Regions from separate parts of the Homo sapiens genome. Here region 2 is linked to region 1. Evidence: fine-mapped QTL for protein levels in blood plasma. Region 1 holds a variant in brackets. A gene starts in the other region. All regions are shown on their reverse strands.

Region 1 (8,337 bases):
GTGGCGGAACTTGAAGAACTGTCAGGAGCAAAGATCTCAGATCTCCACAGAGAGAGGTCAGTTTCTAAATGTTCGATTCACTTCAGTTTTACGATTCTCCTATTAAGACCTGGTCTCTAGCAGATTACAGAGCCACACATGGAAGTGACTAGCTTGCTGAATTACTTTGCTGATGACTCATGTCATATTGCAGTATTGTGGCCTCTGTCCTTGTGAAATGTGAGGTGAATGGTGCATAACCTTTCAGATGGAGGATTCATGGTGCTCTCTGAAAGCCTTTGAGAATTGCTGATATTTCTGTTTGCAAATGTGTATAATATCTTGTCAGGGTTTTGTGTTTCCTATTAGCAATTAAACTGCAAGTTCTGTTATGCTTACAGTTAATAGAAATGACTACTTTTCTGTTTGTTAGTGTTGACCACCTGACCATTCCTTCACGCTGTGGGAAGGGATCCTTGCACCGCATCTCTGAAGTGTTTGACTGTTGGTTTGAGAGTGGCAGCATGCCCTATGCTCAGGTTCATTACCCGTTTGAAAACAAGAGGGAGTTTGAGGATGCTTTTCCTGCAGATTTCATTGCCGAGGGCATCGACCAAACCAGAGGATGGTATGCCTCCTTGTTCTTTCATCACGTGTTTTATTGATTTTATTTTATTTAGGGAGTATTTTACTAAGTCACTGCCATTTATCTACTGGGTGATGGAGAGATTGTGGCAAATAAGACAGGCTACATTCCTGCCCTCTCCCCTCCACCACCAAGCACGGACATTAAAGTGCCTTTTGAGTAGGACTCTCCCACTACAATAGGGCTGTAGTTTTACAATTTCAATGATCTCACTGGCATTTTGGAATATATGTGTTACACTGGATGTTAAAATGATAAAAAAAGTTATGTGTTCTTAGCTTACGTCAGATCATTTACTCAAATGTTTGAGTATTTGCATAAAAGACAGTAGTTTGGGTGCTAGAAATTTGAGGGATAGTTGGTAATGTGCTCAGATATTGAGGCTAGCCTTATAAATCAACATTCTAAAAAAATCCAGATTTTTAAAAAATATACATATGAGAGAGGATTTGGGCATTGATTTTTATCTGGTGCCTTATGTAAAACAGTTCCTTAATTGGAAGAAGGTGAATTACTTTCTTTCCATGGATTGGCTTTGCTGGCCCAGGCTTTATTTACTTTTTTTTTTTTTTTTGAGACAGAATCTTGCACTCTGCTGCCCAGGCTGGAGTGCAGGGGTGTGATCTCGGCTCACTGCACCCTTCGCCTCCTGGGTTCAAGCAATTCTTCTGCCTCACCCTCCTAAGTAGCTGGGTCTACAGGCATGCACCACCATGCCCAGCTAATTTTTGTAGTTTTAGTAGAGACTGGGTTTCACCATGTTGGCCAGGCTGGTCTCGAACTCCTGACCTCAAGTGACCCACCCGTCTCAGCCTCCCAAAGTGCTGGGATTACAGGCGTGAGCCATTGCGCCCAGCCCAGGTTTTAATTATACATTCACAGTAATGTTTCTGCAGGGGTGTGTTAAAGGAATTGTTGGTGTCATTTTCTCTCTTTGACAGCTTTGGGTAATCATTGAATTCAAGTCTTCATGTTCTGGAATGTGCTGTCTTCAGATTCCAGTCCTTTTTGTCTATAGGAACAGCTACCCAGCACAAATTCTGTTTTTAGAAAGGGGTAGATGCCTTACCAATGAGCTTGTTCCTTTGAGGAGTAGCAAAGTCTGTTAGCTGGTAACAGTCCTCATGTGGATCCCGTGTCCTTGGTGCCTGCCTCCTTCTCCATTCCTGAGGCCTGGGCTACCTCTCCTGGGCACCAGGGCTCCTCCCAACTCTCCTTTAGAAGTGGGAGGGATATCTGGATCAGTGTTTATGTTAACTATGGGGTCTGGTCTCCTCAGCTCATGTCCCTTGATGTTCTCAGAGTGCAGGACTAGGTAAGAGAGGCAGGAAAGCATCACCCCCAGGACAGTGGTCAGGGATATGAGTTCATTTGGGAAACAAGCTAGGTAGCACATAAATGAGGTACATAACATTTTACAGAATAAAAGCATTTTCTAGTCTGCCTTATCACTTTTGGGTGAGAGTGCATTTTGCATCTTTTGTCATCAAATTGTCTTTTCCATATGATCTTGTGCCAAATTCAAAACCCATCCTTCATCTTCAGCTAGGTGCTTCTGGGTGGTCCTGAGAGGCCACCCAGTGCTGCCATGTGGCTCTCCACACAGACTTCCTGGGAGCTCTGGTAACAGAGAAATGGTCAGTAAATCATTCCAGACGTTTATTTCAATGCTTCTTTCAAATCTTAGACAGTAATTTGATTGGTCTCCAGTAACCAGGATTAAGAATCATTGCTTTAAGTGATTCTCAAGAAGTGTGACTTATCAAAAATAGAAATTCAATGAATAAATACAGTTTCTTTCTTATGCTTGGACTTCATTTCTATTTTTATTGAACTGTTTGGGGTTTTTTTTCAGGTTTTATACCCTGCTGGTGCTGGCCACGGCCCTCTTTGGACAACCGCCTTTCAAGAACGTAATTGTGAATGGGCTTGTCCTGGCAAGGTAGGTCAACTTTGTTGTAGTGACGGGTGGAACTTTGTCTCCACTGTTTCTTAAGAAGGAGTGCGTGAGAGCGGTCAACTTTGTTGTAGTGACAGGTGGAGCTTTGTCTCCACTGTTTCTCAAGAAGGAGTGTGTGACAGCTAAGCCTGATGGAGGAGGAGGAAGGGGAGGACTTTCAGATTGTGCTACTGCTAGTAACATAATGCTACTAGTGATATTACTAGTAATAAAATAGCATTTACTAAACTTAGCACTTTATGAAATACTTTTGCTTATAGATCTTATTTAATCTGTACATCAGTCCTTTCATGTAGATTTTGTTGTCCTTTTTTTAACACACGAGGAAGCTGTGGGTTCTAGAGACCACAGGTGCCCAGGATCAAAGCTAGTGACAGCCACACTGGGCTTGACCGAGGTACTCTGCCACCAGATCCCATTCTTCCCCTCATCTGAAACTTCCTCCCAATGGGCATTATTTCCCACATTTTGCTATTATAAGGAAGTCTCATTTTTCCTTTACTTTATTACCTCTAGTCATTAAGAATAAAAATAAACATAAATGAAAATTTTAAAATGAAATATTTTAAAATAGAATTTGTGCTGAGTACCCACACAGAAATCCTACTTTATATGCTGTGTGAGGAGGAAGAGGATGTCACCTAACATTTTGTGCATCCTTATTTTTTGCCAGGCCCCACTGTGTGCATTTTCACATTTTAACTCATTTAATCCCCAGAACCATTTGAGATGGGTCCTATAATCCCTTTGTGACCTTTGAGGAATCTGAGGGACAGGAAAAAGTGACTTGCCAAAGGACACACAGCAAATGAGTGGTAAATGCAAATTTTGAACCCAGGCAGTCTGCCTCTGTAGTATGTGTACTACTTTTTTTTTTTTTTTAATTGAAAATTTTATTGAGGGCTGGGTGCTATGGCTCATGCTTGTAATCCCAGCCATTTGGGAGGCCATGGTGGGCGGATCTCCTGAGGTCAGGAGTTGGAGACCAGCCTGGCCAACTTGATAAAACCCCCGTCTCTACTAAAAATACAAAATTAGTGGGTGCAGTGGCACACACCTGTAACCCCAGCTACCTGGGAGGCTGAGGCACAAGAATCGCTTGAACCTGGGAGGCAGAGGTTGGAGTGAGCCAAGATCATGCCACTGCACTCCAGCCTGGGTAATAGAGTGAGGC[T/C]CCATCTCAAAAAAAAAAAGGGGGAAATTGTATTGAGATCATTGTAGATTTGCATGCAATTGTGAAAAATAATAGAGATCCCTTAAATTCTTTGCCCAGTTTCCCCCAGTGGTCACATTTTGCAAAACTACAGTATATATCACAACCAGGATATTGATATAGCCCACTAATCGTATTCAGATTTCTCTAGTTTTACATATACTTATTTGCTTATACGCATTTACCTGTATACGGCTATCGTGTGTAGGATCCTGTATCCAGCAGCACAGTCAGGTTACTGAATGAATTCAACATCAAAGGCTCCCTTCCTGCATTGCCTTCCCCTCCTGCCTTCCCACTGTCATCCCCAATCCCTGGCAACCACTGGTTTTTTCTCCATCTCTGTAATTTTGTCGTTTCCAGAATGTTATATAAATAGAATTATACAGTAACTAACTTGGGGGAATTGGCTTTTTTTTTCTTTTTTTTGAGACAGAGTCTCACTCTATCACCCAGGCTGGAGTGTAGTGGCGTGATCTCGGCTCACTGCAGCCTCCACCTCCTGGGCTCAAGCGATTCTCCCATCTCAGCCTCCCGAGTAGCTGGGACCACAGGCATGAACCACCACACCCAGCTAATATTTTGTATTTTTGGTAGAGACAGGGTTTCACCATGTTGACAGGCTGGTCTCGAGCTCCTGAGCTCAGGCGATCCACCTGCCTCGGCCTCCCAAAGTGCTAGTATTACAGGCATGAGCCACCGCACCCAGCTGGCTTTTTTTAAATCCACATAATTCCATTGAGATTTTAGATGACTGCACCTACCAATAGTTCCTTCCTTTCCATGGATAAATAGCATTCTGTATTATGGGTATGCCATGGTTTGTTTGATCATCCACCTCTTGAAGGACATCTGGGTTGCTTCTAACATTTGGCAATTGTGAATAAAGCTGTTGTGAACAATTGATAATAGGTTTTTATGATAATGTAAGTTTTCATTTCTTTGGGATATATTCTGACACATCTTTCTTCTTCAGTCTACCCTGAAGCTTCCTCATGGACTTAGTATGATATTCAAAAAGAAGTTTGCAAATATTAACAAAATATCTTACCATTGTACCTTAACACTGTTTGTTTCTTTTTTGAGACAGAGTCTTGCTCTGCTGCCCAGGCTAGAGTGTAGTGGCGCGATCTTGGCTCACTTCAATCTCTGCCTCTCAGGTTCAGGCAATTCTCCTGCCTCAGCCTCCCCAGTAGTGGGGATTACAAGTGTGCGCCCCCACGCCCAGCTAATTTTTGTATTTTTAGTAGAAACAGGTTTCACCATTTTGGCCAGGCTGGTCTTGAACTCCTGACCTCAGGTGATCTGCCTGCCTCAGCCTCCCAAAGTGCTGGGATTACAGGAGTGAGCCACCGCGCCCGGCCTATTAGCACTAACTTCTATCTAAGTTACTCCTTCCCATTTCATTTTGTATATTCCTGTTTGCAAATGATTTGTATCCTTAAAACAAGATCATCTGTGATATTGACTTACTTAATTGGCATCTCCCTTTTGTTTTACAAGTGATGGCCAAAAAATGAGCAAACGGAAAAAGAATTATCCAGATCCAGTTTCCATCATCCAGAAGTATGGTGCTGATGCCCTCAGGTACAAACCAGTGCTTTGCCTTGTGTGTATCTATTGTTTTTTTATGTAAGCATCTCCTATACTATTAATCAGTATTCTTAGATTTGGTTTATAGTTAGGTTTTTAGCAACATATCTCTGTTATTTGGATGTTATGTTGGTATGGTTGTTGATTTTAAACCCCCAAAATAGTTTTCTAAATAATAAAGGCATTTTTAAACCTAGAGGTCTGTTTGAGGAAGAGGACCTGTGTTGGGTGTTGTTGAGCTGTCCAAGTCCTCCCCAGGCTAGATGCTGATTGCCTCTGCCTTACTTCCTTTCTAGGTTCCCTGTCTTGTTGGTATTAGAATTCTCTTTCATCATTTGTTTTAATTTTGTACTTACAGAGCCATGTGAGATATATCTATGCTAGAGGTGATAAAAAAACTCATATTGAAAAGCTTTTGGAGAAATTTGAGCCACTGCTTGAGGTAGCTGTAATCATGAAACCACACAGTGTTCAAGTTGAAAGGGACCTAGAGATCTTGTTCAGCATCCCTGTGTCCTAGGCATGAGACCAGTGCCCAGGCCTGTGACTCAGCACCTTCACACAGTACCTCTGTTGACCAGGAGCCATTAGTGGGGCTCTCCCCCAATTCTCCACTGTCTCTTAGACTCACCCTTGGCACTGCTGCCCATTTGGGCTGTGTAATTCTTTGTGGTGGTAGTTCTTTGTAGGATGTTTAGCAGCATCCCTAACCTCTGCCCACCAGATGTCAAGACTCTGCTCTGTGAAGGCTCTTCCTTGTGAGTCCCTCTCTCTGCAAGCAGCAGATGCAGGTCGTGTCCGTGGGAAGGACACAGTGGCTCTTGACGAGGACCAGGCCAGCCTTTCTCTTAGTGCTGGTGTACCCCATTGGTCCTGCAGTGAGAGTGGCATAAGATGCATTTCTGTGCTATACAGTGCCATATTTTGGTGTCAGATTATATACGTCTTTTATAATTTGCTAAGTCTCTTATAGAAAGTGAGAGTGAGTTTTGTGAGTTTTAAATTGACCACTCAAAGAGTATTCATAATTACCCCCTTTTGTAGAAAATAGGACTGATTTTCATCTTGCTCTCTCAATATGTCGAGTAGTAATAATTGGTTTACTGTCTAAGTACCTTTTCTGTCTAATTTTTCTCCCTCTTCCAGATTATATCTGATTAACTCCCCTGTGGTGAGAGCAGAAAACCTCCGCTTTAAAGAAGAGGGTGTGCGGGACGTCCTTAAGGATGTACTGCTCCCATGGTACAATGCCTATCGCTTCTTAATCCAGAACGTTCTGAGGCTCCAGAAGGTATGGGCTGTAGGGGGCTGCACATGTACCTGCCGTGTCTCCACAGCGCTCCCTTCACCAAGCTGTGAGGTGGAGCTCTGTGTGAGACTTTAGGGCTGCTGTTCTCTGCTGCCTGATGCTGGGGTAACTTAGAGCCATGGGGAGGCCATACATGCAGGTGCGGAAGGTATCTAGGGTCCGGGCTATGCCAAGACCATGGGCCCTAGCCTGCAAAAGAGTTATGTCATATAGTTGTTTAGTCGCCAGTTGTTGTTTTTGTTTTTGAGGTGGAGTCTCAGTCTTGTCACCCAGACTGGATTGCAATAGCACGATCTCGGCTCACTGTAACCTCTGCCTCCTGGGTTGAGGCACTGCCTCAGCCTCCCCAGTAGCTGGGATTACAGGCACCCACCACCATGCCTGGCTAATTGTTTTATATTTTTAGTGGAGACTTGGTTTCATCATGTTGGTCAGGCTGATCTTGAACTCCAGACCTCAGGTGATCCGCCCTTCTTGGCCTCCCAAAAGTGCTGGGATTACAGGCATGAGCCACGGCACCCAGCTTCGTCAGCCAGTTCTTGGTACCAGGAACACCATGTTGAGTGAGACACCCCTCCCCTTATGGAACCAATGGAGTGGGAATTGGGAGATACAGTAAAGAGTCAGCAACTTTTAGAGAGAGCACCCAGTGAAGGCGGAGTCACAGGCAAGCTAGGGCTGGCCACTTGAGATGGGTGGTCAGAGAAGGCCCCTCAGTGGGGTGGCATTTGGGCTAATCTGAGAGTGACAGCAGTTCTCGATGGAGTTTTCAGTGGGTTGTTAGGGTCACATATAATAGTTGTGATGTATGTGGAAGTGTACTTCAATGGCAGTTACCTCCACGCCCAGGAGTTACTTTCTCACCTGAGAAGCCCTTGCTCTAGAGCCACCTTCCATGCCCCACAACTGACCATTGTCAGCGTCCATCACCTTCATTGAACATGTTCCTGTATGGGCTTTCAAGACCTGATTTGGGGTCAGAGTTCCGATACTGCACATCTGATCTCCAGCACCTTACAAGTAAAATTGCTTGTAAGTAAATAACTGTTGAATGAAAATGAGATATTATTCCTGCTTGAGCAGATGAAAAAGCTGGTTGGAAAAATGAACTCTTGTTATCCCACTCCAGCAGGCAGGTCAATTACTTCTGCTCCCCTTGGGCTCTGGTTGTTCTGCTAATGAGGACACATCATGTTCACCTGAGGCTCTCAGAGTAGCCTTTCCCCAGGAATTGAGAAGGGCAGTCATCTTCCCCAGGCTCCCAGCATTCCTCCTCTCTGCAGCCTGCCACCTGTCCTGCATGTGGTTCTCTGCCAAGTAGGGCAAACAGTCCTTGGGCAGGTGCACTCTGCAGGTCTCCACTGGTGTGGGACTCAGGAATACAGGCGGGGTCAAAGCTCCCCACAGCCAGGGCCCATCTGAATATACCAGCAAGACACAGACTCCATGATCAGGGCCTTAAACACAGAGGAAGAGTCACATTATCACTGCCCCGCTAGCCTGGTTGTGGTGCTGCCAGAGAAACAAAGCAGGACATGAGTTCTGTTTGTAGAGCAAGGACTTAAGATCAAGGAGGATTTTGCAAAGCAAAAAGAGTGGGATAGAACTTTCTGGGTAAAATGAACAGCCTTAGCATG
Region 2 (8,337 bases), not on the chromosome of region 1:
GACTCAACTACAGTCCCCAAAGTCAATCAGCATAAGCATTGGCAAGGATGTGGAACAACACGAACTCTTGCTGGGAGACACAGGATTGGGAAAACCATTTTCGAAAACAATTTGGCATTATGTAAAATTGTTGGAGTCTTTTCTGACTACCAACCAGCAATTCTATTCTGATATTTACTCTTACTAAATAAAGTCTAGACTTGCACTGTCCAACATGGTGGTTATTAGCCAGCACAGGCTGGAGTGCAGTGGCGTGATCTTGGCTTACTGCAACCTCTGCCTCCTGGGTTCAAGTGATTCTCCTGTCTCAGCCTCCTGAGTAGCTGGGATTACAGGTACATGCCACCATGGCTGGCTAATTTTTGTATTTTAGTAGAGACGGGGTTTCACCATGTTGGTCAGGCTGGTCTCGAGCTCCTGACCTCGTGATCCGTCCACCTCGGTCTCCCAAAGTGCTGAGATTACAGGCGTGACCCACCGCACCTGGCCGAGAATCTCTTAAATAGAAAATAACAGTAAGATTATTCACTGTAGTACTGTAAATAATGAGAAAAAAAGAAACAAAGTCTCTATCAACAGTATAACGTACAAAGAAATTTTTATGTATTTATAAAGCTGACAACAATTCAGTGAAAATCAATGAACTCAGCTACAGGCATCAACAAGTGTGCATTGGAAAAATCCTGTTGAGTGCAAAAAAGTAAGTCTTGGAAGAAAACATATAACATGATTCAATTCATATATAAGTTAAATGGGCAAAACCCATCGTATAGCTTGTTAAATTTTTTTTTTATTATCACACCTGGTCCTGAGAAGGTAGCAGGAGTAATGTAATGCTTCTGAAGTGGGATCCAAGGTAGAGAGGGTTCCAAGAACCTAGAGTCATGTTCAAAGACCTCCTGACTTCATTGGCCTCTTTTCATTCAGGATAATTTTATTGGTTGCATTTATTCAGGGGCTGTGCACTACTCACAGGAAACAGCAGAATTCATCAGGATGCTGTCCAGTGGCTCTGACCATGTCTGGATCCCAGATCCCTTTGAGAATCCAATGAAGTTCAATGTTAGATTCTTTAAGTTTGTACAGTTATGGAACTAGTTTTAAAAACTGGCCCAGAACTTTGCAAATCAGAGGTTCTGGAGCATTTTGCAGTGGGGTGGAAAAGCATAATGTGTAATTAATATTTTGCTTTCCACATGTATGGGTTCTTTTAAAACATCTAAACATACCTTTTACATCTTTGGCTCACGAAACTGCCCATCCACTCTGAATGAACCGTAACACATTCCAAATGAGAAGGATACAAAATAATGAGATAAGTGCAAAAGAATAGAATGAATTGCATCCAGAAAGATCAAAATAGGGGTAGGAATGTAAAGACATTTGGACCTTTTAGGGTCAGATGAGAGTCATCAGAAAAAGCTTCTAGAGAAAAATATGGGGATAAAGAGACTCTGCAGCTAAGATGTGAGGTGTCCCAGGCCTGGAAGAGGGAGAGAGCTTATGTCCCCTTCCTCCAAGCATGAAGCCAACCTCCTTCCTTGTCCACCCAGCACAGGTATGGGTTTAAGAACCTTCACCAAGCATGCGTCTCAAGACACGCTGATATCTTGAAATGTCTGAAATATGGCTATAGTCATTTTCCTACTGTATCTTTTAATCATCCCCAAATATCAACATGGATCCAAATATTTGACCCTGTAGTTTTTCTAACACCAAGTACAGGGAAGCCAGTGAAGTCTCAGTTAATGTTTTTATGCTCAAGAATGTAAAGAACTAGAACTCCGCAATGTGGGATGCATGTCTCTCCCCGTGACCTTTGAAACCAGTGTGCTCAGGGGTTGTAAGTACCACCACTTACACTGCTGTCCTGTGGCAGTTACACGCACATGCCTGCATTCAGAGTTTTGGAGTGTGCGTTGACATCTGTGTGTGTGTGAAGATAAATGGGTGCCTGTTTGGATGCAGGACATGATACAGGGCATTGCTGGTATGCTGTCAGAAACCTCATGTGAAAACGAACCACCCGAAGGACGGCTTCTGGCCCTTGGAGTCACTCACTCACTTGTGGGACTGTTCAGGGTATAATCTGTCTCCAGTCTACAATTGTCGTTTTACTATGGGAATAGAAAGTTTGAATCAAAATTGAACATTGAATCAAAATCAAAACTATTAAACAAATAGACAATTAACAACTACTAAACAAAATATGGTTCTTTCTATGGTAATTTAAAAAATGGCTGTAACATTGTACATTTTAGGAGGAAAAAGAATCAAAAGATGACTAGAAACCTAAGTGAGCCTGGAGAAAAAGTTAAGTGGAGACATTGTAGCTAAACGATGAGCATGAATATAGGAAAATTTAACCTAGAAACTGAGAAAGGATTCCAGTGAACCAAATATCTTGACACAGCCCTTGGAACACAGCACCAGGACGCGTGAGTAATGGTGTGCACGTCAGAAAGATACCAGAACTACCACCTCAGTGGGAAAAACATCCCCTGGGCTTGTCCGCAGGGCCTCTCTGGCTGCACCCCGGCTGCTACTGTCACTAGTTAGAATGGAAAATGTGATGAACCTGATTTGTCTTTCCTAATCTGGACACACAATCGATTCTACCATTTTTATTTTCAGGACCAAGGCATTTGGCGTTTTTTGTGTGCCTAGTAATGTTGTTTGCCGAGTGTATTAGTCAGGGTTCTCTAGAGGGACAGAACTAATAGGGGATGGAGATATATTTCTGAGTTTATTAAGTATTAACTCACACGATCACAAGGTCCCACAATAGGCTGTCTGCAAGCTAAGGATCGAGGAGAGCCAGTCCAAGTTCCCCGACTGAAGAACTTGGAGTCCCATATTCAAGGACAGGAAGCATCCAGCATGGGAGAAAGATAGGCTGAAAGTCTAGGCCAGTCTCGTCTTTTCACGTTTTTCTGCCTGCTTTATATTCTAACCGTGCTGGCGGCTGATTAGATGGTGCCTAGCTAGATTAAGGGTGGGTCTACCTTTCCCAGCCCACTGATTCAAATGTTAATCTCCTTTGGCAACACCCTCACAGACACACCCGGGATCAATACTTTGCATCCTGCAATCCAATCAAGTTGACAGTAAGTATTAACCATCACACCAAGCTTTTGCTGGAGCCTCTTGATGACAATTTTGATTGAGTCAGAAGGATGAATTTCGCAGAGATGTTGGTTATATTAACAACTCATTGCACAGATGGAGGACCTGAGGTCCACATCCAGCTACAAATTTCTGCCTGCCTCCTGCCTCCAGGCTGATCTGGGGACGTGTTGGCCTCTCAGCATTATTGCCCATGCCCTAGTCTGGTAGAAGAGTGGTTTAAAAGTGTGACTGTTTTATTCTTCATAAGAATCAGGCTGCCTTGGTTGAAATTGTGGCCCCATCACTTTGCAACTTTGTGGCCTCTGGCAAGCTATGGCACTTCACTGACCCATATATGTGATGGAGATAATGATACGGTTATTACAGGAGCACACTTGATGATAGGTGTAAAGCACTCAGTACAATGCCTGTTTGTAGGAAGCATCTAATAAATTCTAGTTGCCAGTATAACTAAGCACTTGCCCTATTTTTCAAATGCTATTTTAGCCAGATCAAATAGGTAGGAAAAAGCCTGTCAATCATGAAGTTTATACTTTCCTGTTTCTAAAAAGGTACACTTCTAAAAATTTATATAATTCATTTATAGCTATTAACTTAAACTTGGAAAGTTTGGATATTTGGTCTGTCTTCACAAGTGTTTATCTGAGCCCTACCTCTCAAATTAACATGTATCACCATTGATGTGCATTATGTTGATTCTTATACCTATTATATGCATGTGTGAAACTAAGCCCCATAAAAACAGAATTTAGGCATTCCTGCTGAAAGGAAGTGAATTGAAGGGAAGAGAAGCAGAGCCTTTGCAAAGAGAAAATTGTCCTATCTCTCAACCAGTGTCAGAATGTGGAAATGTTTACAAAATGCTCATTAAAAGAAATAGGGATTGCAAGATAGAAACAAATTCTGGTGCACAAGTTTACACTAGGGAGATAAGAAAGGCTAGGCCCCTATAGGGGATTTTGTTATCCAATTACTGCAACCTGACTTTTAGGGGGAGAGGAAGAGTGGTAGGGGGAGGGAGAGAGAGAGGAAGAGTTTCCAAACTTGTCTCCAGTGACAGGAGACATTTACGTTCCACAAGATAAAACTGCCACTTAGAGCCCAGGGAAGCTAAACCTTCCTGGCTTGGCCTAGGAGCTCGAGCGGAGTCATGGGCTCTCTGGTCCTGACACTGTGCGCTCTTTTCTGCCTGGCAGCTTACTTGGTTTCTGGCAGCCCCATCATGAACCTAGAGCAGTCTCCTCTGGAAGAAGATATGTCCCTCTTTGGTGATGTTTTCTCAGAGCAAGACGGTGTCGACTTTAACACACTGCTCCAGAGCATGAAGGATGAGTTTCTTAAGACACTAAACCTCTCTGACATCCCCACGCAGGATTCAGCCAAGGTGGACCCACCAGAGTACATGTTGGAACTCTACAACAAATTTGCAACAGATCGGACCTCCATGCCCTCTGCCAACATCATTAGGAGTTTCAAGAATGAAGGTAAGTTTTTGCTGATGAAATTTTGCTAGGATTTTTTTCAAGACACAATAAGTAAATTTACAATGCATGGGAATGATATAGGTAAGGGTAAATACATCTATATAAGGATGTTAAATACATATGGATACACAAAAACAAGGCACATTTTGTTCTATACCAATTATATAGTCATTTCAGGAACCTCGAAAAATACTTACAAACATCTTTTAATCCAAAGCCACAAAACATCTATCAATTTGACATCATAATTGGGTCCTTTTAAAAAATGTTAATTTGAACACCAAGTAATACAAAGAATTAATGTTGGTCTACTGCCGTACCTTTGTCATTTTCCAAATAGGCCTTGATTGCCATATGGGCTTTTAATTAACTAAAAAATTTCTCAACTTCTACTTAGAATAAAAAGGGTAAAAACAGTCAAAAAACATCAAATTGTGATTTGTGTTTTGTTCAAACTTTTGATAAGTTTTTATTTTGTGACCTTATTTAAGAAATGTTCAAACAGGATGGAAATATATTTTAAAGATTCTTCCTAAGGCTGTGTTGTTTGATGTGTCATGTACATCCTTAAAGCACTGTTTACAGTTTCCAGGAAGTGTAGATGGCCCATTAATCATCCAGCTCATCATTTCCGTCTTTATAAAGAGCAACGTACAAGCTTTGAATTATTGGTGGGAAAAGTGTGTTTTCTTCTCTTAGGTCTTTAAATTTGGTAACTAAATCTAATGAGCTAGCAAGTTAATGTTTTTGTTTGTTTGTTTGTTTGTTTGTTTTTTGGTTAATATGGTCCTAGTAGGAAAAAAAACCCCTGATATCTAGATATCTATAGTAGAAGCTGAAGGTCCAAAGGAACTAATTTAATTTTTGCCAGTTATGCTTTTATAGTCACTAACCAGGTATAAAAGAAGCTTCCCGTTAATATTGGCCAGATGTTCTTGAAAGAAGAAAGGTAATAGTGAAGAAATAGCTCAGGATTTGGGATTTTGAGAGCTAGTTGGCTTAGTGGTTGTGAATAATTAGCTGATGCCTCAGAGCCTCAATTTCCTCATCTATAAAGTGGGAGTAATAATACCTACATAACATAGTTGAGTGACTCAAAGGAGGTTACAGATAAGAAAGCACTCCATTTACTATGAAGTGCTGATCAAACTTTAGTGACTACTAATGAGTTACTTAATATTCTAGGTACTGGAATAAATGTTGAGTAGGTATTCCTTAGTCCCTAAGATATTATCTCCCTTTAAAATTGAGTTGGCTGCCAAAATTTATAATTCATAATATCTTTCTCATGGAAATGGCAAGTTGAGATTACAGATTGCTTTTGGAGGTGAGTCTGAATTGAAAATGAACAACTTCCTCCTGTAAGAACCCTCCCTAATACTTCTCAGCACTGAGCCCTAAGTGTCTGGCTCAGGGTGTGGGTGAGAAAATGTTGTTTGCATCCCCTGGAAAACTAGAAACGTTTTCCGTTCTCACTTCTCTCATAGAGTATCTGGATGATCCAGGTCAGGATGTGGAGTTTACTGTGCTTATTATTACTGGAGATTATTGAGGGCAGGAACACATCTCTTAGTAAACAACCCAGCCGCCAGCACCTCTGCCAGTCTGCAGGAAATGTGCAGCCTGAGGACAGAAATCGCACAGGACATGCCCTGTTGGCTACTATTGCCTCTCTTCTGACTCTTTGGATCTGCTTAGTGCAGCTCCCTAGGAGAGAAAGACCAAAAAAACTCCAAACCTACCCCATCTTGGGAAAAAAAAGTGCCACCTCCAAGGTGAAAAAAGCGTGCTCCTTTATCACCTTGTCATTTGGGGAAATCAGTTATCTGCATCAAGGCTTGATTTATTCTGGTGCAAAACGAGTAGAGAATCAATACCTGCATTATGGGGTCATTGTGAGAACCAGAGAAGATCATGCTTGCAAAGCACCTGGCATGAGAAATTTGTCAACAAACATTCGTTCTCTTGCCCTGAAATGTAACTCTTCCATCTATTGCTTACTGCATTTGCACATGCACAGAACTTCACAGTGAACTTACTTTTTCAAAACAGCTTTATTGAGGTATATTTGACTTATAAAAATATGACATATAAAAATATTGATGTATAAAAGTATAATCGCACATATTTAAAGTGTATAATTTGAAAGGTGTTGACATATGTAACATTCATTGAAACCATCACCACAATCAAGATCATGAATATATCCATTAAAACCAAAAGCTTCCTTGTATACTTTGTAATGCCTTCCTCCCACTACAGTGAGCTCTTATTTTATACTTTTCTCCTGGGTAGAGCAACCAGCCTACTCTTCCATGTTCCCTGTCCATGGGGAGTCAAGTCTCTTCCCTTCTTAGAGTGGAAGAATAACTCCCAAGCCCAACCCAAGAGCTTGATGATGGATTAAGGTCATATGTCACGCCCATAAATCAATTTAGTCTGGTGCCTAGAATCATCAACTAATCAATATTTTTAAAGCACTACCTCTGTTTAAGCCATCATAGTAGGATAGAGACATAGAAGGGAGTTTTGAGCCATTCAAACCAGGAGGATGGCAATCTAGTTGGGAAAATCCATTCATAAAAAGATGGCTGAAATATAAGGACGTAAATGACAAGGATCAAAGGAGATATAAAGTGATCAAATGATTTCAGAGGGGAGAGGAGGGAACTTTCAGATGAGAAGTAAGGGAGGCTTTTATAGGAGATGTCAGAGCTGGATAGGTGGAGGTGAGGTGAAAGGGCTTTCCAAGGGTCAGAAGAACATGTGAAAAGGTGAAAATTGCAGGGAAAAAAAGAGTGTTTTGACAGGTGGTAAAGATATCAATGTAGTTAAAACAGAAGGGTTTACAAATCCATTCAATTGTTCACAAATATTATTGAGTAATCACAATGTTCCATGCACTGTGGAGGACGTATGTAAGCTATGGCTGATCAGGAGGTTAAGACCCAGATATAGCTGGTCTTGAGAGCCATGCCAGGGAGTTTAAATTTATTCTGTAGGTCAGCATTTCCCACTAGCAGTGTGTAAGATTAATTTAGGTGGTACCCAAAGAAAGCTATTAATCATGTGAAATTATTGTATATTTTTCTTAGTATGGATTTTTAGCAAACACACATAAATATCACCTCAAATCTCTCCTTTAATGAATTATGTTGCTTAGGAACAGTCTAAAATAGATAATAAGTATAAAATAATTAGATCAAATTAAAGAAAAATATTAAAAGATTATAATCTGAAACAGGGACTCACCGAGATCATGAACTAAGTATAAACTTGGGGAAATGCTGCCAATGATGACAGAGAACCCCCAGTTGGTGGTCCTTAGCATCTTCGGTGCCATGGAGTCCTTTGATAATCTGATGGCAAATGCCTTCAGGGCTTCCTTGTAGACTCATTACCTGAGGCAAGTGTGCAGGAGCTTTGGGCTCACTGTGAAATATTCAGATAGGAAGTCAACATGATCGTATTTGGAAGTATGCTTCTAAGACTAAAGGACTTTTACAGAGTTGATTCATAAACATTATTGAGTGAGTTATACATGTCACGCCCCATGCCAGGTGCTAGGGGTACAAGACTAAGGCAACCAATCTAGTCCCAGGATTCATTTTCTCCCATTCCTCTTTATAGAGAACCATATAACCAGCAGTCAATTGCTGAGACCCTCTTGGTTTATGGCTGTCTTATTGGCCTTGTCAGGCTTTGTTGCCTAGAACAGAAGTCA

Direction of the effects. Alleles are on the strand shown, and positions count from the first base shown. The strength of an association depends on the size of the effect and on how common the allele is.
As copies of T replace C in region 1, the plasma level of the protein whose gene starts at base 4,241 in region 2 goes up (weak association).

The links. A credible set is the group of variants that fine-mapping cannot tell apart. PIP is the chance, under the fine-mapping model, that this variant and not a neighbour inherited with it causes the effect. Protein levels are from antibody-based Olink assays in UK Biobank. Linkage for the fine-mapping came from a reference panel and not from the study's own genotypes, which makes the PIPs less certain.
Region 2: it holds the start of BMP10, and the variant in region 1 is the best candidate, but not a certain one, in a credible set for the plasma level of the BMP10 protein (UK Biobank, PIP 0.81).

The regions. Positions count from the first base shown.
Region 1 is chr9:92,257,199-92,265,535 of GRCh38, reverse strand. It overlaps IARS1 (isoleucyl-tRNA synthetase 1), which reads left to right. Exons shown (of 34, transcript NM_002161.6): 15 at 1-56; 16 at 413-607; 17 at 2,481-2,567; 18 at 5,302-5,385; 19 at 6,538-6,682. Among named protein-coding and RNA genes, the nearest start is that of MIR3651, 31 kb to the left of the region's middle. The variant T/C (reference allele first, on the strand shown) is at 3,760.
Region 2 is chr2:68,867,301-68,875,637 of GRCh38, reverse strand. BMP10 (bone morphogenetic protein 10) reads left to right here and starts at 4,241. Exons shown (of 2, transcript NM_014482.3): 1 at 4,241-4,613. The coding sequence starts at 4,280. LOC105374792 (a long non-coding RNA gene) reads left to right here. Exons shown (of 3, transcript XR_940227.3): 3 at 1-97. RefSeq lists a silencer at 4,265-4,425.